Homo sapiens: one gene and its partners. The protein of the gene in region 1 interacts with the protein of each later gene in a biochemical or structural test. Each region holds a gene or a part of one and is shown in the gene's direction. Other genes may lie near its edges. The genes, in order: GHRHR, RHPN1, PDZRN3, DLG1, MPDZ, TJP1 and PARD3.

Region 1 (3,038 bases):
CAGCTCTGAAGCACCCAGGTCCTGGCCCCCAGGTTCTATGCAAGGTCTCTGTGGCCGCCTCCCATTTCGCCACCATGACCAACTTCAGCTGGCTGTTGGCAGAAGCCGTCTACCTGAACTGCCTCCTGGCCTCCACCTCCCCCAGCTCAAGGAGAGCCTTCTGGTGGCTGGTTCTCGCTGGCTGGGGTGAGCACTGAGGGCGGGTTGGGCACCATGGGGAGGTAAAGGGCTGGAAAGGCCCAGGGAGTTTACATAAAGGCCCCTCCACCTCACTCTGAGGCCCAGAGAAGGAGAGGGACAGGCCACAGTCCGGCAGCAAGTGTTGGAGGGTGGGACCAGGGCCCTGGCTCTGGGGTCCTGCCTGGCCCTGCCTTTGCAGTGCCCTACGTGGCTGATGGTGGTGGTGGGAGGTGGCGCCAGATCTCAGAGTCAAGGATGCAGACTCCCTCGCTTGTGTCTTCCCTGTACTCCTGTAGGGCTGCCCGTGCTCTTCACTGGCACGTGGGTGAGCTGCAAACTGGCCTTCGAGGACATCGCGTGAGTCGGAGCGGCCACCTTGTCATACCCGCTGGTCCTACATGGGGTGTGGAGTGGACAGTCAGGCCATGGGCTGTTCTCCAGGCTGGGAAGAGGAGGAGAAGGGACTGCCCGGCTAGGATGGGGGGTGGGAGAACAGTCTGTGAGTAGCACAGAAGGGGCATGAGCCAGGCAGGAGAGTGGAGCTCAGATTCCCAGGGCTGTGGGGCTGGGGGAAGGTGGGGTGAGGGAGCTGCCAGGGGGCCAGCAAGGAGGCATTGAACAGAGTTCAGAAACGTTTGTCCATCTAGGTGGATAGAAAGGGTGAGCCCAGCCTGGATTGGGGTGCCCCTTTGGGTGAGACCTTAACTGGCTGAGACAGGAGAAAAGGCTGGAGGGGAGGTGGGTGAGACCAGAAGGCATGAATGCCTGAGAGGGAGGTGCCTGCGTCACCACAGTGAAGGGGACTTTCCAACAACGGCCTTCTTTCCTCTCTCCCCAGGTGCTGGGACCTGGACGACACCTCCCCCTACTGGTGGATCATCAAAGGGCCCATTGTCCTCTCGGTCGGGGTCAGTCCCTGGGCCAGTGCCCTTTGCTTTATTCAGTCAACTTCCCTGGAACTACTGACGGGCTGTGCACAGCAGGAAATGCAACTCCAGGCTGGGTGTCTTGAAAACTGGGCTCCAGCCTTGCTCTGCCACTGATTCTCTGTGAGGCCCTCTCTGGGCCTCAGTATCCCATTGGTAAAACTAGAGGGGTGGTGGTCTCCATCAGCATGCAGGCTGTTCCAGCTCAATTTTGATGAGCCTAATGTGCTGGTTGCAGATCATTTACCACCACAGTGAGAGACTAGGGGTGCCGGGTGGGGGCAGTAAATGGAGTCTGCAGCTAAACCCCTCTCCTCCCTCTGCTCTCACACACAACACAGAGGCAGTGAAGACTGCTTTGCATGGCTTTGGTAAATGTACAAATGTTTTGCAACTTAGCAACTGTGCAAAGTGAGGGACATCTGCTTTGTGCTAGAGAAGAGCCTGGGAGGTGGCTGGAGGCAGGTGGCAAGGCCTGATCGCCCCCCTTGATCCCAGGACTTGGTCCTTCTCTGTCCAATGCTCAAATGTGGGACCCCCGCCCCCCCATCTCCAGGCTACCAGTTCTGGAGCAATGATCTGTGCATTCATTCACCTGCACATTCTCACGTCTCAAGGATTTAAATTTTCTAGTCCCCAAATGGGCTGGGGCTCACCCCAGCCACCCAAGGCTACCCCCTGACCCTTGTCTTCCACCTTCCTATGCCTCTATTTCCAGGTGAACTTTGGGCTTTTTCTCAATATTATCCGCATCCTGGTGAGGAAACTGGAGCCAGCTCAGGGCAGCCTCCATACCCAGTCTCAGTATTGGTACTGTGTGTTTGTGTCTGGGGATACTGGGAAAGGGTAACTGGAGGGGGATTCAATGTGTCTGTCTCATCCAATAAGCACTCATGACCTCAGCCCCATACTCTTTCTTCCCTATGTTCCCAGAGACAGAATAGACCTGGCCCCTTCCTTCTAGGGGATCACAATATTGGAAGGATGAGGACTCCAAACAGCCAGCTCCCATGCCAAATAGAACGATGAGTGCTGGGATCAATTTCTATGGGAGCCTGGGGAGAGGGATCCTTTCTAGTTGAAGGGTGGTGTGGTCAAGGAAGACTTCCTGGAGGAAGTGGTTTTGATCCACACTTTGAAAGATGCATAGACTTTGGGATAAACTGGGGCAATAACAGTTGGTAGGGGAATCAGCAGGATCCAGCGCCCAGAAATAAAAAAGCCCAGAGTGATTGTGGGGAGGTGGCGTTTCCCAAGGTGGCTGTTCCACAGAGTGGATATAGGGAGGTGGTAGGAAGTGAGAGGAGATGAAGTGCACACGACAGTTTCTAATCCCAGTCTTGGGAGCCTAGGATTTGTCTTTCCTGCAGGCGTCTCTCCAAGTCGACACTTTTCCTGATCCCACTCTTTGGAATTCACTACATCATCTTCAACTTCCTGCCAGACAATGCTGGCCTGGGCATCCGCCTCCCCCTGGAGCTGGGACTGGGTTCCTTCCAGGTGAGGGCCCCCACAGGCACTCTTTCTTTCCATTGAGGGTGCTGGAGGGAGGTGCTGTTGCCCACGGGCCTTGGCTGAGTTCATGACAGGGTGAGGGCTATGTTTTTCATCCATCTATTCAAATATCTGTCTGTCTGTCCATCTTCCAGCCACCCATCTACGTATTCAACTACCCATGCATTCTTCCATCCATCCATCCATCCATGCATCCATCCATCCATCCGTGCATCCATCCATCCATCCATACATCCATCTACCCACCCACCAACCCATCCATCCATCCATCCATCCACTCACCTAACCACCTACCCACCCACCCATCCACCCACCCATTCATCCACCCACCCACCCATCTATACATCCATCCACCCACCCACTCATCTATCCATCCATCTATCCATCCATCCACCCATCCATCCAATCTATTCAACT
Region 2 (3,500 bases), on another chromosome or scaffold:
GGCCTGTGTTCACACTAGTTCTGTCCAGCCCCTCCCTGTGAGGCCAGCTCCAGCCCCAGCGCATGGTGACCATCCCGTTACCCATGGGCAGGATGCACTCCTCTCAGTGGCTGGCGAGGCGCAGCCTGGTGCGGGCGCCACGGGGTCGGGCTGTGATCGCCTGTGGCCTCCCTGCAGGGCTGTGACTCCCTGACGCAGATCCAGTGCGGCCAGCTGCAGAGCCGCAGGGCCCAGATTCACCAGCAGATTGACAAGGAGCTGCAGATGCGGACGGGCGCTGAGAACCTCTACAGGTCAGTGCTTGAGACTGCCCGGCCCCGGGAGCAGGGCCCACCTGGGTGAGGGGGGCAGGACAGCCACGCAGGCAGATGTCTGCCCCATGGCCGGGTCACAGAGACAGGTGCATGAGCAGCTGGGTCCTGGTGGGCACGTAGTACACGTGATGCTCAGCCATGACCCTCACAGACCTGCCTCCGTGGGCCTCTGTGCTGGGCTGGAGGTGCCAGGAAACCAGTGTCCCTGCCGGGTGTGCAGCTTGGGAAGCCCCAACAGTGCACGTGGGGGCTTCTCAGAAGAGGCATGGTTGAGGCTGAGCTGTGGCAGGTGATGGCGCGTCCCAAGGTTGGGGACCTGGGAGGGGGTGGAAGACCTGGGCTGCCTCTTCCTTAGAGCACACCGCCTGTGTGCCACACATGTGCGTGTGAGTGCCCCTCGGTCCCCTTAGCACCTGCTACCTCCCTGCCCCCATCCTGGCCTTCCCTGGGGACCTCCGGTCCCTTTGCCAGGCCCTGATGCAGGCACAGAGAGGTGTGTGGCTCTCACCCACCATCCAAGGAGTGATGTTTGAGTGCTGTCGAGGGCTGTATGAGCCCCAAAGAAAGCCGTGGTGCTGAGGGAGGTGCCCCCAGGCCAGAGTCGGAACATGCAGGTGCTGGGGTCGGGGTGATGAACTGTAGGGGGCATCACCTGTGAGCCCCCGGATCCCACTGCTGCCCCTGCCCCACCCATGGGGGGCAGACCCTGTCAGCGACGTCCTCTGCAGGGTGGGCTTGGAGCTTTGACAGGTCAGCTGGCAGGACGGCTGCAGTGGGCACGGGGCCTTTGGCTCTGCCTTGGGGCTGGGCTTTCAACTGCCGCGGCCTCCCTCAGAGCCACCAGCAACAACCGGGTGAGAGAGACGGTCGCCCTGGAGCTGAGCTACGTCAACTCCAACCTGCAGCTGCTGAAGGAGGAGCTGGAGGAGCTCAGCGGTGGCGTGGACCCTGGCCGGCATGGGAGGTGCGGGTGGGGGCCGGGACAGCACGTGCGTGTATGTGTGTGCACGTGTGCGTGTGTGTGTGCATGTGTGTGCACGCATGTGTGTCTCTGTGTGTATATGTGTGCATTGTCTGTGTGTGTGCGTGTGTGCATGTGTGTGCATGCATGTCTGTGCGCGTGTGTCTGTGTGCATGTGTCTGTGCATCTCTGTGTGTGTGCGTGTGTCTCTGTGTGTATATGTGTGTGCATGTGTGTGCATGCGTCTGTGTGCGCGTGTGTCTGTGTGTCTGCATGTGTCTGTGTGTGCATCTCTGTGCGTGTGTCTGTGTGCACGTGTCTGCGTGCGTGTGCATGTCTGCGTGTATGTGGGTGTGTGTTTGCCTCTATGTGTGCGTGTATGCACGTGTGTCTGTGTGTGTCTGTGTGTGCGCGTGTGTGTGTCTGCACGTGTGTGCATATATGTGTGTGCGTGCGCATGTGTGTCTGCATGTGTATGCACGCATGTGTTTGTGTGTGTGTGTGCGCGCGCATGTGTGTGTCTCTGTGTGTGTGTGTTTGCTTTTGGGGCGGTTTAGGACGGTGGGGGGTGGTGCACAGGTGCAAGGATGCCCCCCAGGACACAGGCGCACGTGCACACCCATGAGGGAGGGAGGCACCCTGTGCCACAGAGCCCTAGGAGTGGACCCCGGGCTGCCGTGGGCAGCAGGGTTTGGCCTTACAGTCTGAAGTCGATGCTTCTGGTTACAGCGAAGCTGTCACTGTCCCCATGATCCCCCTGGGCCTGAAGGAGACCAAGGAGCTGGACTGGTCTACACCGCTGAAGGTAGGTACTGGCCTCCAAGCTCTGAGATACACGGCCCTGCCCTGGGACCAAGGGGGTCTTGGAGGCTTTCTGGTCCAGCTGTCTGGTTGAACAGATAGGGAAACTGAGGCCCAGAGGGAGGGAGGCTTAAAAGGGACGCAAGGGACCTGGCAGAAATGGCCACAGGGACCCAGCCTCTGCTGCGTTCAGGGCCCCGCTGGTGCCTGCGCCCCAGGCCGGGGCTGATCCCATAGAGTGGGTGTGAACATGTGCCCTACCCTCGGATGGGCAATGCCCTAGGAGGATGGGGCCTGGAAGCCCCAGCCGGAGCACAGGGTACAGGCTCGCCCATGGAGGGCACCACTGGCTTGGGGCCACACACCCAGCACTGGCTCACGAGGGTCCTGGGGAGAGCTAGAACAGACTGGCACTGCCTGGCAGGGCCCCACGGGAGCCACTGACTGTGTTCCGTGTCCGAGTCACTGAGTGGCAGATGGCACCTGCCTCCCGGCCACGGGGATGAATAAGGAAACGCACGTAAAAGTAGCGCTGAGTCTCCAGGCCCCGCTTCTGTGATGGGGTGGGGAAACCCCAGGGCCACAGGGGCTCCGACCCGCATCAACCCACCAGGCCCCTCCATACACATTGGCCCCCAGCCCTTCTCTGGGGCTTCCACTGAGGGGCCCAGGGCCCCCACGCTGCATGGCAGCCAGCCTGCTCTGCGGCACAGACCCTCCCTCCACCATGAGTCTTTTCCCAAGGTGGGTTGGGAGACCTCAGGGAAGGAGGCCAGGCACAGGGGTACTGTGGATGCCAACACCTGCCCCCCATCAGGAGCTGATCTCAGTGCACTTTGGAGAGGACGGCGCCTCCTACGAGGCAGAAATCAGGGAGCTGGAGGCCCTGCGGCAGGTGTGTGGTTCCCCCGCCCACCCACCCTCCTGCAGCCCTGGGAGACACATGCGGAGGCTGAAGCTGAAGTCAGGAACAGACAGAGGAGCTCAGCGTAGACATCTCGAGGACGTGGGGAGACGGGCGCACCAGGGGCCCTGTGTGTCCAGACCCAGCCAGGGGGCGTGGAGGGGCTCCCAGGTGGCTCCGGTGCCGCATGCTGCTGGCCTTCGGGAGTCACGGCTGCCCAGGGCCCCACTGGCTTTGCCTCCCCGCCCCCCATGGTGCTGGTGCCCATGGGACTTCCCAGGGCAGTGTGTGTGAGTGGGGTGGGCCAGGGCGGTGGGGCCCAGTGGCTCCTGCCCTGCAGGCCATGCGGACCCCCAGCCGGAATGAGTCGGGCCTGGAGCTGCTCACAGCCTATTACAACCAGCTGTGCTTCCTGGATGCGCGCTTCCTCACCCCTGCCAGGAGCCTCGGGCTCTTCTTCCACTGGTAGGGGCTCTGCGGGCGGAGGCACCCTGGGGAGGGGAGGCCCAGCTGCGGGAAC
Region 3 (3,500 bases), on another chromosome or scaffold:
GATCTCAGAGGCCAGCACATATCTTAGACTGTTGCCTGGGCTCGAGCCTAGTTCTCTGCAGAGATAAAATCTAACAATGAAGCAATAAGCAGTAAAATATTGTCCTGTTTCCTGCGTAGAGATGGAGTTAGAAATCAGTCACGCTGAATCACGTGACTGGCAGGCTCCGGGATGGGCTCTGCAAACAACAAAGCCCATCAGGCTTGCACTTTGCATCTTAAGTCCTTCAGGAGGAAATGTACTAAAGGCAAATGGTAAAATTAGGATGATGGAGGTCCTGACCGTGCTGAGAGCCCCATCCAGAGGGAAGTGAGTCATGAAAGGGCCCACACCCTGGGAATTGCTACTGTGCCACTGGCCTGACAATGGGTGTAAGAAAAACAGATACTGACAACGGAAGAAGGGCTGTAAAGATGTTGCATCTCTTTTCAGGCATCCCTCAGCCCATGAATACTACGATCCAAATGACTACATTGGAGACATCCATCAGGAGATGGACAGGGAGGAGCTGGAGCTGGAGGTATGAAGAACATCCTTGTCTCATTTTAGGAGTCATTATTAAGAACACAGAATGCCTAATAAGTTCTCTATAAGCATAAATTAGTTTACGGATGCCGATGGAAAGTAACAAAAGCAGAACCACTTTTACTGATGCCCTTTGAAAGGCACAACTGAGATTCTTCTTCCTTCCTTGGAAACAGAGCTTAATAATCAAGTCCCAAAAGCAGAAATGTAAACTTTTTTTAATTTGAATCACTTAAAAGTTAGGACAGTAAATCCTGTTGTCAACCTTTGAATCCACATAATCCATACATTCTTGTAACTAACATAAGCCTCCTCACCTTCCTCCCTTTTATGTCATCACCACTCTTTACTCAAAGGCAGATGGCTCAAGAGTAGGTGGATAAATTACTTGAGTGAATGCTAGCCCGCCCTAACAAAAGGGTTTGTTCACTGCTTCACTTGCTTCAAGTTTGCTAACATTGATACAGAAGAAATTAAACAAGTCTGCAACTCTTCTTAAGTGTTATTTGAGGCCACACAGGAATAAAGATTCAAGATGCTACATAATGTCAAATAGGTCTCTGTTAAGGTTTAAAATATTTAGAGGACACCAGGTTGCCAACAGAGTTCTACTTCCCATTTTCCTTTTATTAAGGGTGATAGAAAATACAGAAAACACTAACTTGTATAATATATTTATATTTTGGGGAAAACACTTTTATATTTCAATGGGGTTTCAAAAAATATAACAGCATTTTTGAAAGCTGATTTTATGGAATAAGGTAAAAAGACACCTGATGTTGACAGGTAAGCCCTTGGGTACCATCAAAAGGTCACCCAGGAAAAATCGAACATTTTATCCAATTTCATGGCTAACTGTTGTGTAATCTATGCTGTCCTACCAATACTTCTGAAGTTGAATTGTTCAGTGGCAGTAGGTTCTGTGCAAGGACAGAAGCAGTCAAATAGTAGAAAACAGCTATGTTCCTCAACTTAAAGTTACCAAGAGTTCTCATTCCAAGACAGAAGTTAAAAATCAATAATTGTGTGCAAACGATGACTTCACTGATGGTTAGCCAGATACAGTCAAATCAAAGGACTTGTTGCCAGTGGCATGACTGACTCTGTGCCAGTTTTCAGAAATTTAAAATTTTCCCTAAATGCACCTGGTCTAAACAGCAATGGCCAGTATTCTCACTATAAAAACTTGACTGTTTCTGCTTGCTGTCAGCCACTTACCAAAGCGCTTGCCATTTAACAATTGTTCCAGAAAATGTAGTTTTGTCATTTTCAAAAATCAGGATTCTGCCTCTTATTTAGTGTCCTATCACCCCAGCTTCAGGGCTGTTTGGTGAAGCAGCCGTGACTCCTTCAGGACACTTGTTCCTTAATTTGTTATGTATGTTCCTTCCAAAGGGGGTTCATAATGAAATACATTTGGGAAATGCCAGACTGAAGACAACGAAACAGATTTCTTGGAGGACTTCTGAGAATCTTGACTATCTACCTAGAATCCCCTGGGGGAGTGGGCAGAATTTCCCCCACCTCTCTGGCCAAGTACCTGTTTATATTTCCTCAGTCTACAGTTCTCTGGAACACTGTTGGAGAAACACTGCTCTCCAAACAGAGGGCTATTTCGTAATCTTTATGGGACGACACTGCTTTTTGATGATGTAATTGTGGCAAAGTAGAGTTCTTTTAAAAAGCTGTAAAGTGTTTCAGAAGCTAGAGTTATGAAGTAGTAGAGACTTTGTAGTCTTTGGTATTTAGTTAAACTTGACTTTGTAGCAGTGGGTTCTTTAGTTCTTTTTTTAGTTTCTAATACCTTTGAGAATCTGATGGAACCTACAGCCCCCCGCTCTGGAAAAATGCTCCTGTCTGTGAGAGCTTGCATATGGTTTCAGGAGATTCACTGAGCCCCCACAGTATCTGCCCAATTTGGGCCATTCTGCCTTACAGTTTTTCCTTATACCTGACTATCACCAGAACTCTTACGTGCTTTCTATTTCTCTTTAATTCGACTCAACTTATTTAAACTACGGTAATTTTATTTTAAAGGAAACACTATACCACTGCGTCAAGCAGAAAGTCAGCATCCATTGCCTTAAATAGAAAATCCCATACAATTAAATACAGTGGACACAAGCCAGTGTTATTTATTAAATCCTGGTGCTCAATAAGGGTGCCTGCTGAGGGTTGGGAGCCTGGGGCCACTACATCCTGCCTTTTCTCTAAGGAGATTAGCTAGTATTAAAGAAGTGTTAAGACTAGCCCAGACTGAGTCTTTCTCCTCAAAGCATGAAGCACCTGAGAGCATCCTGCTTTCAGCAGGAGGGAGCCACTCAGAAACTGTTCCCTAGAACCCTGTTGTTCAAAGTGTGGTAGGAGGACCAGCAGCCTGGCTGGTCAAAGTAGAGTTCTCACCTAGGAGATGTGGGAACTACAGAAACTTGGCCCCCTAGATCTTCAGAATCAGAATCTGCACTTTAACAAGGTTCCTAGGTACCTCGGTGCCCATTAAAGCCAGAGGACCCCTGACCTACAGGCCACAGACCCAGATAAAGCAGCCCAAGCTATCATTTCCTCTTGTTCTCTTGAGTCACACCAGCGAGGCTTTTGTGGTGCCTTTCATTCACTGCAGTGTCGAGATGTGCCGCCAAGTCACGAATATTGTCCACACTGTCCCTGCAGTGTAACATTATCAGGGCCTAGGAACGACTGAGCCCCTCGTAGGCATGTGACACTGTGTTCCTAAGACTGCTTCTCTCTTTTCATGAATAAAAGCAGACACAACGCAGGTGTTTAGAAAACTAGTCTGGTATTAATATTTTAAGCTAGACCTTGGATGCCATCAGACTTTATATTCGTGTTTATTTTCAATTCTGTTCATTTTATTGTCTCTTACATTAAATATACTGTTTGGCCCTAGAAATGCAAAATCACGAAGTCACCACTCTGCCTGCCCTTAAGGAGCTCACAAGCCATTAGGACCATTA
Region 4 (3,500 bases), on another chromosome or scaffold:
TCCACGTATAAATGAAATACAGTATTTGCTTTTCTGTGTCTGGCTTATTTCATATAGCATAAGGTCCTCCACATTCACTCATGTTGGTTGTTGCAGATGATAGGATTTTCATTTTTATGGCCTAATAAAATATTCCATTGTTGTATATATACCATATGCATGCATACATACATACATATATATATATATTTGTTGTTGTTTGTTGTTGGGTTTTTTTGGGGGTTTTTTTTGTTGTTGTTTTTTTTTGAAATGGAGTCTGGCTCTGTCGCCCAGGCTGGAGTGCAGTGGCGCAATCTCGGCTCACTGCAACCTCCGCCTTCCGTGTTCACGCCATTCTCCTGCCTCAGCCTCCCGAGTAGCTGGGACTACAGGCAGCTGCCACCACGCCCAGCTAATTTTTTGTATTTTTAGTAGAGATGGGGTTTCACCATGTTAGCCAGGACGGTCTTGATCTCCTGACCTCGTGATCCACCCGACTCGGCCTCCCAAATTGCTGGGATTACAGGCGTGAGCCACCGTGCCCGGCCTGTTTTTGGTTTTGTTTGTTTGTTTTTGAGGCAGGGTTTTGTTCTTGCCCAGGCTGGAGTACAGTGTCATGATCATGGCTCACTGCAGCCTCAACCTCCTGGGCTCAAGCAATTCTCTCTCTTCAGCTTCCTTAGTAGCTGGGACTACAGGCGTGCAACACCACACCTGGCTAATTTTTTATTTTTGTAGAGACAGGGTCTCGCTATGTTGCCTAGGCTGGTCTCAAACTCCTAGGCTCAAGCAATCGTTCTTCCTCGGCCTCCCAGAGTGCTTGGATTATAGGTGCACTGCACCTGGCCTACAATATTCTCTTTATTCATTCATCTTTTTTGTTTTTGGAGATGGAGTTTTGCTCTTGCTGCCCAGGCTGGAGTGCAATGGCATGATCTCAGCTCACCACAACCTCCCGGGTTCAAGCGATTCTCCTGCCTCAGCCTCCTGAGTAGCTGGGATTACAGGCATGTGCCACCATGCCCAGCTAATTTTGTATTTTTAGTAGAGATGGGGTTTCCCCATGTTGGTCAGGCTAGTCGAACTCTTGACCTCAGGTGATCCGCCCGCCTTGGCCTCCCAAAGTGCCGGGACTACAGGCGTGAGCCATCGGGCCCGGCTCATTCATCTTTTGACAGACTCTTAGGTGATTTTCATATCTGGGCTATTGTTGATTATGTTGCAGTGAACATAGGAGTGCAGATTTCAACATACTGATTTATTTTCCTTTGGTTTTCTTTTTGTTGTTGTTGGCTTTTTGTTTTTTATTGTTTTGTTTTGAGACAGAGTCTCACTCTGTTGTCCAGGCTGGAATGCGGGTGTGATCTCAGCTTGCTGCAACCATCGCCTCCTGGGTTCTGTTGATTCTCCTGCCTTAGCCTCCCAAGTAGCAGGGACTAGAGGCACATGCCACCACACCCAGCTAATTTTTGTATTTTTAGTAGAGACAGGGTTACAGGGTTGGCCGTGCTGGTCTCAAACTCCTGACCTCAAGTGATCCGCCTGCTTCAGCCTCCCAGAGTGCTGGAATTACAGGTGTGAGCCACCACGCCTGGCCCAATTTCCTTTCCTTTGTATATATATCGAGTAGTGGGATTGCTAGATCATATAATAACTCAGTTTTTAATTTTTTGAGGTGGCTGGGCACAGTGGTTCATGCCTGTAATCCCAGCATTTTTGGAGGCCCAGGTGGGCAGGTCCCCTGAGGTCAGGAGTCCGAGACCAGCCTGACCAACATGGCGAAACCCCTTTTCTCTACTAAAAATACAAAATTAGCCGGGCGTGGTGGTGCATGCCTGTAATCCCAACTACTTGGAAGGTTGAGGCAGGAGAATTGCTTGAACCTGGGAAGCGGAGGTTGCAGTGAGCCAAGATCGCACAATTGCACTCCAGCCTGGGCAACAAGAGTGAAACTCTGTCTCAAAAATAATAATAGTAATAATAATTTCTTGAGGAATGTCCACACTATTTTCTGTGATGGCTTTACTCATTTACATTCCCACCAACAGTGTACAGGGTTCCCTTTTCTTCATACCATTGCCTACTTGTTATCTCTTATCTTTTTGATAACAGCCATCCACACAGGTCTAAGGTGATATTTCATTATGGTTTGCGTGTGTGTTTGTGACAGAGTCTTGCTCTGTCACCCAGGCTGGAGTACAGTGGCATGATCTCAGCTCACTGCAACCTCTGCCTCCTGGGTTCAAGCGATTCTCATGCCTCAGCCTCCTGAATAGCTGGGATTACAGGCACATGCCACCACACCCGGCTAATTTTTGTATTTTTAGTAGAGACAGGGTTTTGCCATGTTGGTCAGACTGGTCTCAAACTCCTGGCCTCAAGTGATCTGCCCGTCTCAGCCTCCCAAAGTGTTAGGATGGCAGGCGTGAGCCACTGCACCCAGCCTCATTATGGTTTTGGTTTCTGTTGCTCTGATTAATGAGGTTGAGCACTTTTACTGATACCTGCTGGCCATCTGTATGTCTTCTTTGGAAAAATGTCGATTCCAGTCCTTTGCCCATTTTTTAAATGGATTATTTGGTATTTTGCTAATGATTTTCTTATATATTTTGGATATTAACCCCTTACCAATTGCATGTTTGGAAATATTTTCTCCTCTTCCATAGGTTGCCTTTTCATTTTGTTGATTGTTCCTTTGCTGTGTAGATTTTTTATTTAATATCCCACTTGATGATTTTTTATTTTGCTGCCTGTGCTTTCCAAAAAATCATCCAAGACCAGTGTGAAGGCGCTTTTTTCCCTGTGTTTTCTTCTAGGAGTTTTATGGTTCTGGTTTTACATTTAAGTCTTTAGTCTATTTCAAGTTAATTTTGTATAAGATAAGGGTTTAGTTTCGTTCTCTTGCATGTGGATATCCAGATTTTCCAGCACCATTTATTTAAGACACTAGCCTTTCCCTATTGTGTAGTCTTGGCCCCTTTTTAATGATTAGTTGCCCTTTGATCCGTTTTGAAATACTATTTGTTTAAAAAAAAAAAAAGTAGGTAGCAACTCCCCAATATTCTTATTTTACTCGCCTTGTCCTTTAACTTCCTCCTCAAGTCTTTGGACATTTTTGTTGTTGTTACTTGTTTGTTTGAAATAATATCAGCCTAAATTTGACATTCACACTGAGTATCAGTAAGGGTCATGGTTTTTAAACCTTGTGCTTTCTTATTTTTTTCAAACTAATTTCAGACTTAAATAGAAGTTACAAGAATAGTACAGGGAGTTTCATGTACCCTTCACCCAAATTCCTCAAGTGTTAACATTTTACCACATTTATAGGTTTTTTTCTGATACACTTGAGAGTAAGTTTCAGGTAGATGTCCCTTTACTTCTAAATATTTCAGTGTGTATTTTCTAAAAAACAGGGATATTCCCTTATAGAATCATAGTTTTATTATCAAAATCAGGAAATTTAATAATTATATGTCTCATCTAACTATAGATCTTATTAGTATTTCACTATTCTTCTAATC
Region 5 (3,500 bases), on another chromosome or scaffold:
TGAAAAATATCACTTTGACCAAAATTTTATATCTGTTCCATGGCAGGGCCCTACTGACTCACTGGGAATCAGCATCGCTGGAGGAGTAGGCAGCCCACTTGGTGATGTGCCTATATTTATTGCAATGATGCACCCAACTGGAGTTGCAGCACAGACCCAAAAACTCAGAGTGAGTCGTACTATCAACCCTAGAAGCCCTAGCAAAATGTGCAGAAGTGTTTTTATAAACCTTTGAACCTGGCTACCTGTTGCAAGGCAGTTTTAAATATCTATATTTACTTTTAAATCATCTAATCCAACCACAGCAAGGCTTGCTTGGAATAAAAGATAAAGAATATTAAAAGAAAGGAGAAAATGCAGATTTGCAGTTAAATAGGAAGATTTATAGTTGTTTCCTAATACATATTTTTATATGTTGAAATTCTGTGGAACAAGCTAAAAGAGAACAGAAAGTATTTTCAGAACACCAGTATGAAGTGAAATTTTTATCTTATATATTTGATTGGTTTAAACGCCGATTTAACTCTGTTAAATTGAAAAGTATTACTTATTTGCATTCACTGATAATTTTGCAGAAGTTTAATATAAATATGACTTACAATGTTATAAAACTATATGCAACTTGCCTCAAAGCTGAGGGATTATCCAAATTGTGGAGCATTGCAATGGAATTTATGCCAACTGCCCAGCTCTAAAAATTACATGAATATTCCATTAACGCAACTCAGTCTCTCTAAAGCAAAATCTCTATGGTTTCATACCTCAAATAGGTCTCAGAACATAACCACATTTTAGTTTAAATAGTCTTTAGGCTGGGAATGGTTCAGCCTCGTTTGATATCCAAATTTATGGCTGACACTTAAAACCTGATTGTATACATAGCACAGGGTCAGTAAACTTCTGGAAGGACAGATACTGAATATTTTAGGCTTTGTGGGACCTGTGAGTCTCTGTTGCAACTACTCAACTCTGCGCTGTGAAAGCAGCCAAATAAGCATGGCTGTCTTCCAACCAGACTTTATTAACCAAAACAGGCAGTGGGCCAAATTTGGCCTCTGGGCCTTAGTTTGCCAACCTCCGACTTAGAGTCACATCTAATGATTATAATAGTAATGTCCAGAGAAATTTCAGTTTCCAAATGATAGTGAATTTTTTTTTCTTTTAATAGGAAGTAATGTCTCACCCAAGAGAAATGAAGAGCAGGGAAGAGTGACTTTCTCCTTCTCCCTCCCTCTCCCCTGGATATGGAACTCAACCATTATGCACTGCTTCTTTTTGTGGTTGCTGCTTTTTGGACTTCTTGGAATTAGTGGTTTCCTTGGTTATATTTCAGTGGCTGGTAGCAGTATATATGTCATGTGGAAGGTGGAGAAGGAAATGAATACTTAGGTCTCAAAGACCCACTCTCCATGGCTGCTTTAGCAGATGGCTGTTTCTTTCTCTCCCTTGCAGGTTGGGGATAGGATTGTCACCATCTGTGGCACATCCACTGAGGGCATGACTCACACCCAAGCAGTTAACCTACTGAAAAATGCATCTGGCTCCATTGAAATGCAGGTAAGATTTTTATCCCAAGCATAATTCAGAATATAGGTAGCCTGAAGACACATGAGCTTTGATGTTAAAGCAGTAAAAATGATTAAATCTTCTGCTATTATTTTATTTAATATTTCTCTTGAACATAAATGATTAAATTAAGAGTTCCAATAAAGTGCATATGAGACATATTTTGTAACATTTTACTCTGATGCATTGATTGTTTTATACTTTAAGGGGAAAAAAATCCAGGCCTTAGCAGTACATGATTATTTGCTGGAATTTTAAGTGGTGCTAGCAAGTGGCTTATATTCTAAAGATCTTTAAAAAGTAATTACATATGAGACCACATTTTAAAAACATCAAAGAACTTTGTAGAATAGAATTAGAAGAATATGTTTACTGTCAGGACAGTTAAGAGCCTCTGGACCTTGTGAAATTTCATTCTCTTTGGTTGTATTTTATGTTAACAGAAATGTTTAAATGAACAATAAAATATACATTTTAATCCAAGTGCTCTTTCTGAAGAAAAATTACTTTCCCTAGCCACAGGAACATGTGTTTTTTCTGTTTATCCTCCTCCTGTGCGCAGGTGGTTGCTGGAGGAGACGTGAGTGTGGTCACAGGTCATCAGCAGGAGCCTGCAAGTTCCAGTCTTTCTTTCACTGGGCTGACGTCAAGCAGTATATTTCAGGATGATTTAGGGTGAGTTCATACATGATGATTAGTGTATCATTTTTCACTTATGAATCAAGTCTTCCTGACAGTTGCGTTCTCTGTCCCATGTTTCTAGGAATTACGTACAGGTAAAATGATAGGATATATGAAGTGTGAATTATACATATCAGGTGCTTCTAAACTTAAATAATTGTGGCATGGATTTAGCTGATCAAAGATAAGTAGAGATAGATAACTAGCTAGATAGATATGCGTGCTACTACCCTTCCCATGGTTTCAGCTCTGATTTTGGGGCGGAGGACATTTTAGTCTTGATGTTACCACTTCATGTAATATGGAGCAAGTCAAATCTATCATTTTAAAATTTCCCGCACTGCCTATTCATCTAATATATTATCATTTGGACTGAAAAAATTCACAGTATTAAGTAACAATACTTGGATACAAAAGCATTGGAAAACAGAGGAGAAGAGAGAGGCGCATTAGAAATTTTAAATAATTTGATGCAGCTTTTCCATTGCTTATAATTGATTTTTCTCTCTGAGCTTGGGCGTACTGATGTTTATGACTTATTCTAATATAGTCCCCTGAACTTTAGCCCTCTCACTTTAAATAAACTGGAAAAAGAATGAGCTTCTCTGTACAATGAGAACATGCCATGAATATGTTAGTTTAAGGGAACTGTAAATGAGTAATAGAATTAGGGTGTTAAGTAGGATTTCATTAGATTATGTAAATTTAAAATACCAAGCACAGCATGCACTGACAATTTAAGCATCTCAAAAATACCCGTAATATACTCCTTGTCAGTAACAAAGAGAATTATGCTAGCTCTAGGTGGATGTCAGATAATTCATAACATATATGTATAGTTTTTTTTTTTTAATTTAAAACCTCTTTTTCCTTTCCTTCACCGTAGACCTCCTCAATGTAAGTCTATTACACTAGAGCGAGGACCAGATGGCTTAGGCTTCAGTATAGTTGGAGGATATGGCAGCCCTCATGGAGACTTACCCATTTATGTTAAAACAGTGTTTGCAAAGGTAAGCTTGCAAATTTTAACCACCCTCTTTTCCCCTAAACATTCATTAATAGTGGTCAGCAGCTGGCTTATTAGTTTATGGCCTGAGGTAATGCCAAATGGTTAACAGTTGATCATTTCTTTTCAAAACTCCCTACAGGAACAGGTCATTAAATATTTTTGTCCAATTTGAGGTTTCATTATATTTAAAGGAAAATAGGCTCAAATTGAAACTCCATGGAAACTCAACAATATACATAAAAAT
Region 6 (3,500 bases), on another chromosome or scaffold:
GATCATTTGGCGAGAAACGCTATGAACCCATCCAGGCCACTCCCCCTCCTCCTCCATTGCCCTCGCAGTATGCCCAGCCATCTCAGCCTGTCACCAGCGCGTCTCTCCACATACATTCTAAGGGAGCACATGGTGAAGGTAGGAAGTTCGGAAGTAGACATTTTAACACAGTAATGCTTATGAAGTAAAATTCTGGTGGTTTCTAGGCAAAATGGTTTTTACATTAAAAAATACATGCTTGAAACCTTTGGGCTGGGAACAGTAAAAACTAAGAATTTTGTTAAAAGTATGTCTCCTGTTTTTACAAGACCATTATTTTGGACAAGCCTTTTAGCTAAACAGATTTTAATCTATTTTATGCTAGTCTCTAAATCTTCTGGAAGTAGTGTTTGCCAGTATATGTAAAGATGGTTTGTAAAACCTACTATGTTTTATCTCACACACCCAAATAGAAAAGCCATAATGTTTCATATAAAATGTATCCCATACACCTTGACTTTTGCATTTACATACCAGGTAGATCACATATAGCTCCAGATTATTCATCTTAAGAGCTTTGTAACATTTTACCCTCAGCATATAACACAAAGTGGTTATCTCTTCTGCTGTGGACAGGCATTTTCCTAGCACAGACTTCTCTTATTATTCCCTTAGGAGGCACCTCCTTGGGCTTGTGAGTCTTCAAGCAGATGTGTTATAGTTCTGGATTGAGGCTATCTTTTATTAAGATTTTTTTTCACACATGCCCATGTTTACAGATAAAGACAGTTTTAATTCTTACTTTCCAGTCCTTATGCCTTTTCTCTTTTTTTTTTTCCTCTTTTTGAGACGAAGCCTTGCTCTCGCCCAGGCTACAGTGCAGTGGCGCAGTCTCAGCTCACTGCAACCTCTGCCTCTCGGGTTCAGGTGATTCTCCTGCCTCAGCCTCCTGAGTAGCTGGGACTATAGGCGCACACCACCACGCCCGGCTAATTTTTGTATTTTTTGTAGAGACAGGGTTTCATCATGTTAGCCAGGCTGGTCACGAACTCCTGACCTCAGGTGATCCGCCCACCTCGGCCTCTCAAGAGTGCTGGGATTACAGGCATGAGCCACCGCACCTAGCCTTCTTTCTTTTCTTGCTGATTGCACTGGCCAGGACCTCCAATAAACTCTGAAATGTAAGTGGTGAAATTGGACCTCTTTTGCTAGTTCCTGATTTTAAGGAGGAAGGACCTCATGTTTTATCCTTTAGAATGTTAGCTCTAGGATTTTCGTAGATGTCCTTTATCATGTTTAAGACATTCCCTATATTCAGAGTTTGCTGAAAGCAGTCAGATGTTTTTCCTGCATGTATTAAGATGACCATATGATTTTTCTTCTCGTACTGTGGAAAATTATATTACTATATTCATGAGGTATTTGGATTAATAATTCTCCTGTCTTGTAGTGTCCTTAATTATTTCACAGAGTTCAGTTGGTACTGTGTTACACTGTGGCTGGCAGTGCATAAAAAATCCTGTGGTTCCACTTTTTAACCAATGTTTGGCATCATCAGACTTTTCGGTTTTTCCATTCTAGTGGGTGTGAAATAGTATTTAATGCTTTTTGTTGGTTTTGTTTTACATTTTTCTAATTAATAGTGAGTATCCTTATTATATGATTATTGGGCATTCTAGTTTTCACAAAGACTAGTGCCAATCTTTGGAGGCCAGGAATCTTAGCAGCTGGACCCTGACTCCAGGGCAGCAGGGTATATATATTCATGGCACCACCTGTCCATGCTGCCCTCATCCCTCAGCATCACACCTAGCCTCCAGGGCTCAAGAGTCAGGCTCTGGCTGTGCGACCCACATTTGGGCCTCGACTCCAGCACCAGGACAAGTTAAGCTGGGACAGGGCTATTATAACTTTTTTCAGAAAGTTATTTAAATGCTTACGTTTGTTTTTCAGGTAATTCAGTGTCATTGGATTTTCAGAATTCCTTAGTGTCCAAACCAGACCCACCTCCATCTCAGAATAAGCCAGCAACTTTCAGACCACCAAACCGAGAAGATACTGCTCAGGCAGCTTTCTATCCCCAGAAAAGTTTTCCAGATAAAGCCCCAGTTAATGGAACTGAACAGACTCAGAAAACAGTCACTCCAGCATACAATCGATTCACACCAAAACCATATACAAGTTCTGCCCGACCATTTGAACGCAAGTTTGAAAGTCCTAAATTCAATCACAATCTTCTGCCAAGTGAAACTGCACATAAACCTGACTTGTCTTCAAAAACTCCCACTTCTCCAAAAACTCTTGTGAAATCGCACAGTTTGGCACAGCCTCCTGAGTTTGACAGTGGAGTTGAAACTTTCTCTATCCATGCAGAGAAGCCTAAATATCAAATAAATAATATCAGCACAGTGCCTAAAGCTATTCCTGTGAGGTAAGACTTATGCCTTTGCTCAAAGCATTGGCCCTGTGATTTTTCTCATGTGAGTTTGTTGTAGTTTATTTGACTTGGGACTTTAAAGTGATCTTTTTAACTCAACCTTTAAACTGAAGAGTGTTGTTGCAATGAATGCTGTTACATAGAAGGTCCTCCAGGAGGTACAAGATGTTGGTAAAATAATAAAGCTAACAGTCGTGTATGGTTGGTAGGTATTGTCATCATCCCTGTTTTACTAAGAACTGAGGTTGAGTGACAGTAAGCAGTTTGCCCAGGGTCACAGCTAGAGTGAGGTGAGCCTCAATTTAGCTGCTGGTCATCCGACCTCTGAGCCCATGCTTTTTTTTTTTTTTTTTTTTGAGACAAGAGTCTCCCTCTGTCGCCCAGGCTGGAGTGCAGTGGTGCGATCTTGGTTCACTGCAACCTCCACCCCCTGGGTTCAGGCAATTCTCCTGCCTCAGCCTCCTAAGTAGCTGGGACTACAGGTGTGTGCCACCACGCCTGGCTAAATTTTTTGTATTTTTAGTAGAGGTTTTCACCATGTTGGCCAGACTGGTTTTGAACTTCTGATCTCAAGTGATCCATCCGCCTCCACCTCCCAAAGTGTTAGGATTACAGGCGTGAGCCACTGCACCCAGCCAGGAGCCCATACTCTTAACCAGCCATGACCTTTTGTAACCTCCTGACCTACTGGTAAGGTGCATGTGGAGGACATCTAAAAACATTAAGTATCTATGTTCCTCATTCATTATTTGTTCCACAATGATGCTAAGAAGAAAAATAGAATAACCTCTGACTGTTTAAAGAGCAGCAGTTAGTGAGATGGCTGAGCAAATGAGACAAAGTGAGCCCACCTGGAGCCTCCCTGCAGCTCCTCTTTCCTGTCTTTCATTCCACGGCGATTGACCAGATGGATTCTGGCCATACATAAAAGCTCATCTCAGCCTCCTACAGCCAGTTCCATTTTCACGCCACCATAAAGCAGAAGCACTTGCAGGCAGGGAGAACCAAAGGTCAGGATGGCCACCTGAGTCTGCTTTCCAAGAGAAAGGATGGTTATGGCGGTCACTGCCTTCCTAGCTCTGCA
Region 7 (3,500 bases), on another chromosome or scaffold:
TGTTGATGTTAGAATTCTTTAGAGGCTCTCTGAACCCATATACCTTTTTCTGCTGATTTTGTATGATCAGGATTTGTTATTTTTTGTGAATAAACACCATTAGTGAACATTAAATATATTGATAACTTCAGAATTTCCTCATAAAAAGGGAGATAAATGAATTATATTTATTTATTTTTACTCCCATTGTTACTGTTTTTCTTGTCGTTTAGAATATATGATTACACCAAAAAAATCCCGAACTCTAGAAATCTACTAGTCTTTAGTCCTTCCACTACATTTTCCCTCTATCTTTCTCAAATCTGATTTAAGTTTGGTTCAATATTGAATAATTGCTACATAAAAATATTAACAGCTGGTTCCAAGAATCTTCTGGAGTGGGTGCAGATGTAGTGTTTTCATGGATCTTGCTGTGGAACCTTCATGGAAATATTTTGCCTCTTATGATTAAGGAACTGCTCATTAGCAGTCTTTAAAAATAACTTTGAGAAAGAAACATTGGACTATAATGTGCTGTGCAATTTTGTTCCCTATTAGAAAGCAGAAGATGAGGATATTGTTCTTACACCTGATGGCACCAGGGAATTTCTGACATTTGAAGTCCCACTTAATGATTCAGGATCTGCAGGCCTTGGTGTCAGTGTCAAAGGTAACCGGTCAAAAGAGAACCACGCAGATTTGGGAATCTTTGTCAAGTCCATTATTAATGGAGGAGCAGCATCTAAAGTGAGTGTCAACTTTATCATGCGTATGCCTATTAACAAAAATTTTAATTTCAACCCTGTTCCTATTTTGGAAACATATACAGTTAACAGAAGTTTTCTCATTTCTTTATGGTACCCACATTCACATTTAAACAACTAGGTGTATCAGTGATGTGTCACGTGGGGATGGAGTCCATAACTTCAACCTTTCATTTTTTCTCTCACAGAACATACAACCCATTGACATGCTAGTTAAATGAAGTTAATCAATGCAAAGACTTGGCATAGGTCCTGTCACAGAATGGGCGTATAGTAGACGTTAATCTTTCCCCTCCCCTCCCCTGTTTGTGGGTCACTTACTCTATTTCTCAGCCTAGAGAAAATTTCCTGGCCATTTGTTAAGGGGACAGTTCTCTGCAACTGTCTAATAGCCTTGAGCTTTTACATGTCTTGGTTTCTAAATAACCTCTATGGGTGTTTCTGGAAGCAAGAAAGTAATCACTTTGTGTCCTTTGAATTAGTATGCTATTTTGGTAAACAGATTATGATAATGACTTGATTTACAAATGTATAAATGATTGAAATAGACACAGGCTACAATAGCTGCTTAGACGTTATTATGCCAGCGTTCAATTGGGCATAATCCATTAGGATTAAAGCTCCCCACTTTTTTTTTTTTTGCTTTGTTTTTATTTTATTTATTAACTAAAGGAAAAGCTACTTCTTTTATAGCAGTCTGTTTAATAGCACTTATTTTTACCTGTTTTCTTCCCAGGATGGAAGGCTTCGGGTGAATGATCAACTGATAGCAGTAAATGGAGAATCCCTGTTGGGCAAGACAAACCAAGATGCCATGGAAACCCTAAGAAGGTCTATGTCTACTGAAGGCAATAAACGAGGAATGATCCAGCTTATTGTTGCAAGGAGAATAAGCAAGTGCAATGAGGTAAGAAATGCAAAAAAGTGCTAGTATCTAAAATTGTAAATAAACTACATTTCTGTCCTAATTTTGGGCAAAGGGTATTAGGTTCCAGGACCTTACATCAAAAGACCATAAATTATCTTTGCTTATTGTAGTTTTATTATTTTGTAGGTGGATTGTGGTTTGTGTTCTTAATTCTTGTGATCAACATATTCCTAAGTGGACATTAATACTCCTATTGCCAACTCAGCAGGAAACACTGGGATCTCAAAAGCCCCTTTAGCTGAATTTTTTCTTGAAATCAGGGTCACATCTTCCTTCTCAGAGCCAACAGTTTCTCTTCTAGTTGGCAGAGTTATACCTGGGAGGTGAATCATGCAGAGAAACAGTTGCTTATTCATTTATTTAAAATGGGATGCCTCTTACAAAGCCCCTAGTAGGGAACAGTCTTTCCTTCCCTGTCCTTTCTTTTTTATTTGAGACAGGATCTCACTGTGTTGACCATGCTGGAGTTCAGTGTTGTGGTCACAGCTCGCTGCAGCCTCCATCTTCTGGGCTCAAGGGATTCTCCTGCCTCAGTCTGCCAAAGTCCTGGGATTACAGGCACGCGCCATAGCACCTGGCCCACAGTCTGGCTTTCTTAGATGATGGTGTTCTCTTGTGAGATTATCAATAGCATATACCTCCCTCTCTTTCCTCAGTCCCCATTTTCTCTTTCTCTATGGGATTGAGTCTGTTCTCTTAGAATGCCTCCTTTTTCAGTGATCTGTATTGTATTATACTCTGCTTGTTCTAAATGTATGTTGCAGTTTGGAATTAGGGGTGAGGAGGACACAGGGCATCCTCTCTTGAAAGGTAGGATCATCTATTTTCCCAAATATGGAAAAACATACTTTGTTGTATAATAGGACATTTGAAAGTTAAAAATAAATTATATGTTGCCTTGATAATATTGGAGCTTGAAAAAAGCTAAATTTCATGGATCCATTATAAATTATGTGCCAACTGTAGAAAATAGGTCAGACTTGCCCATGTGCAAAATGAGCTGTTGAAAATGTGAAGTTTTTCTTAAATCAATGTTCAGATTCCCACATTTTAAGATCAAATCAACTAAGATAAAATGATTAGCAAATAATACAAACTGAAAATTATACCTAAGTTGTTTAAGAGTTTTTCTTAATTTTTAAACTTCTGTTTAATAAACACATAAAGCACCGTTTTCAGGTTGCAGTGACCACTCATCTGAACCTATGATACAAGCATATTTTACAGAGAAAATATACTCTCGAGCTCAGTTGGTAGTCAATATAGAGGTGACGTATTCTGAAAGATCACTGACCACTGAATTATTTTGTTGTTTTTATTTGCCAAATGTAGAATGAGTTAACAGTAATCAACAAATTAATTGCGATATCAAGAGAACAACATAACCTTAACTAAAAAATCTCAGAGTGGAGAAGAGTGGGACATACAAACATTCATTTATGTAAGATAAATATAAAAGCTAATCCCTCACAGTAGGATGCTGGACTGATATTTTTTTCTCTTTTCCGTCCCTCCTGGACTGATTGAATAGTAGTTTTTACTCATTGCAAAATCATTAGCTGATCTTTTAACTTAAGTCCCACAAAGCACTATATGAAAACATCTCAACTGTAAGTTTACAAAACATATCATTCTCTTTTAGGCCTTTTTATTTTGGCCACCTGAATACTTTCCCATTACACAGGACAGTTTTCATTCCACAGATATTTATTGAGCATCTTATGTGTATCAGAAAATGTGTTAGATCCTGAGGACATAGCAGTGAATAAGACAGATGGCATGCATTCTACTGGACAACGTATCACCTTAGTCTTTTAGAGACCAATTAA

What was found.
Region 2: the proteins of GHRHR (region 1) and RHPN1 interact in a test that uses a peptide from one of them, tested with the Homo sapiens proteins (one large-scale study listed by IntAct).
Region 3: the proteins of GHRHR (region 1) and PDZRN3 interact in a test that uses a peptide from one of them, tested with the Homo sapiens proteins (one large-scale study listed by IntAct).
Region 4: the proteins of GHRHR (region 1) and DLG1 interact in a test that uses a peptide from one of them, tested with the Homo sapiens proteins (one large-scale study listed by IntAct).
Region 5: the proteins of GHRHR (region 1) and MPDZ interact in a test that uses a peptide from one of them, tested with the Homo sapiens proteins (one large-scale study listed by IntAct).
Region 6: the proteins of GHRHR (region 1) and TJP1 interact in a test that uses a peptide from one of them, tested with the Homo sapiens proteins (one large-scale study listed by IntAct).
Region 7: the proteins of GHRHR (region 1) and PARD3 interact in a test that uses a peptide from one of them, tested with the Homo sapiens proteins (one large-scale study listed by IntAct).

Annotation. Positions count from the first base shown.
Region 1 is NC_000007.14:30,973,953-30,976,990, forward strand, and holds part of GHRHR (growth hormone-releasing hormone receptor precursor), read left to right. Parts: intron 1-32; coding exon 33-186; intron 187-476; coding exon 477-537; intron 538-1,018; coding exon 1,019-1,088; intron 1,089-1,824; coding exon 1,825-1,916; intron 1,917-2,476; coding exon 2,477-2,606; intron 2,607-3,038.
Region 2 is NC_000008.11:143,375,376-143,378,875, forward strand, and holds part of RHPN1 (rhophilin-1), read left to right. Parts: intron 1-177; coding exon 178-293; intron 294-1,149; coding exon 1,150-1,278; intron 1,279-2,004; coding exon 2,005-2,080; intron 2,081-2,893; coding exon 2,894-2,971; intron 2,972-3,320; coding exon 3,321-3,445; intron 3,446-3,500. UniProt on the Homo sapiens protein: Has no enzymatic activity. May serve as a target for Rho, and interact with some cytoskeletal component upon Rho binding or relay a Rho signal to other molecules.
Region 3 is NC_000003.12:73,397,942-73,401,441, reverse strand, and holds part of PDZRN3 (E3 ubiquitin-protein ligase PDZRN3), read left to right. Parts: intron 1-432; coding exon 433-520; intron 521-3,500. UniProt on the Homo sapiens protein: E3 ubiquitin-protein ligase. Plays an important role in regulating the surface level of MUSK on myotubes. Mediates the ubiquitination of MUSK, promoting its endocytosis and lysosomal degradation. Might contribute to terminal myogenic differentiation.
Region 4 is NC_000003.12:197,047,113-197,050,612, reverse strand, and holds part of DLG1 (disks large homolog 1), read left to right. Parts: intron 1-3,500. UniProt on the Homo sapiens protein: Essential multidomain scaffolding protein required for normal development. Recruits channels, receptors and signaling molecules to discrete plasma membrane domains in polarized cells.
Region 5 is NC_000009.12:13,108,693-13,112,192, reverse strand, and holds part of MPDZ (multiple PDZ domain protein), read left to right. Parts: intron 1-46; coding exon 47-169; intron 170-1,452; coding exon 1,453-1,557; intron 1,558-2,128; coding exon 2,129-2,241; intron 2,242-3,133; coding exon 3,134-3,257; intron 3,258-3,500. UniProt on the Homo sapiens protein: Member of the NMDAR signaling complex that may play a role in control of AMPAR potentiation and synaptic plasticity in excitatory synapses. Promotes clustering of HT2RC at the cell surface.
Region 6 is NC_000015.10:29,707,469-29,710,968, reverse strand, and holds part of TJP1 (tight junction protein 1), read left to right. Parts: coding exon 1-138; intron 139-1,932; coding exon 1,933-2,410; intron 2,411-3,500. UniProt on the Homo sapiens protein: TJP1, TJP2, and TJP3 are closely related scaffolding proteins that link tight junction (TJ) transmembrane proteins such as claudins, junctional adhesion molecules, and occludin to the actin cytoskeleton.
Region 7 is NC_000010.11:34,357,297-34,360,796, reverse strand, and holds part of PARD3 (partitioning defective 3 homolog), read left to right. Parts: intron 1-537; coding exon 538-726; intron 727-1,479; coding exon 1,480-1,650; intron 1,651-3,500. UniProt on the Homo sapiens protein: Adapter protein involved in asymmetrical cell division and cell polarization processes. Seems to play a central role in the formation of epithelial tight junctions. Targets the phosphatase PTEN to cell junctions.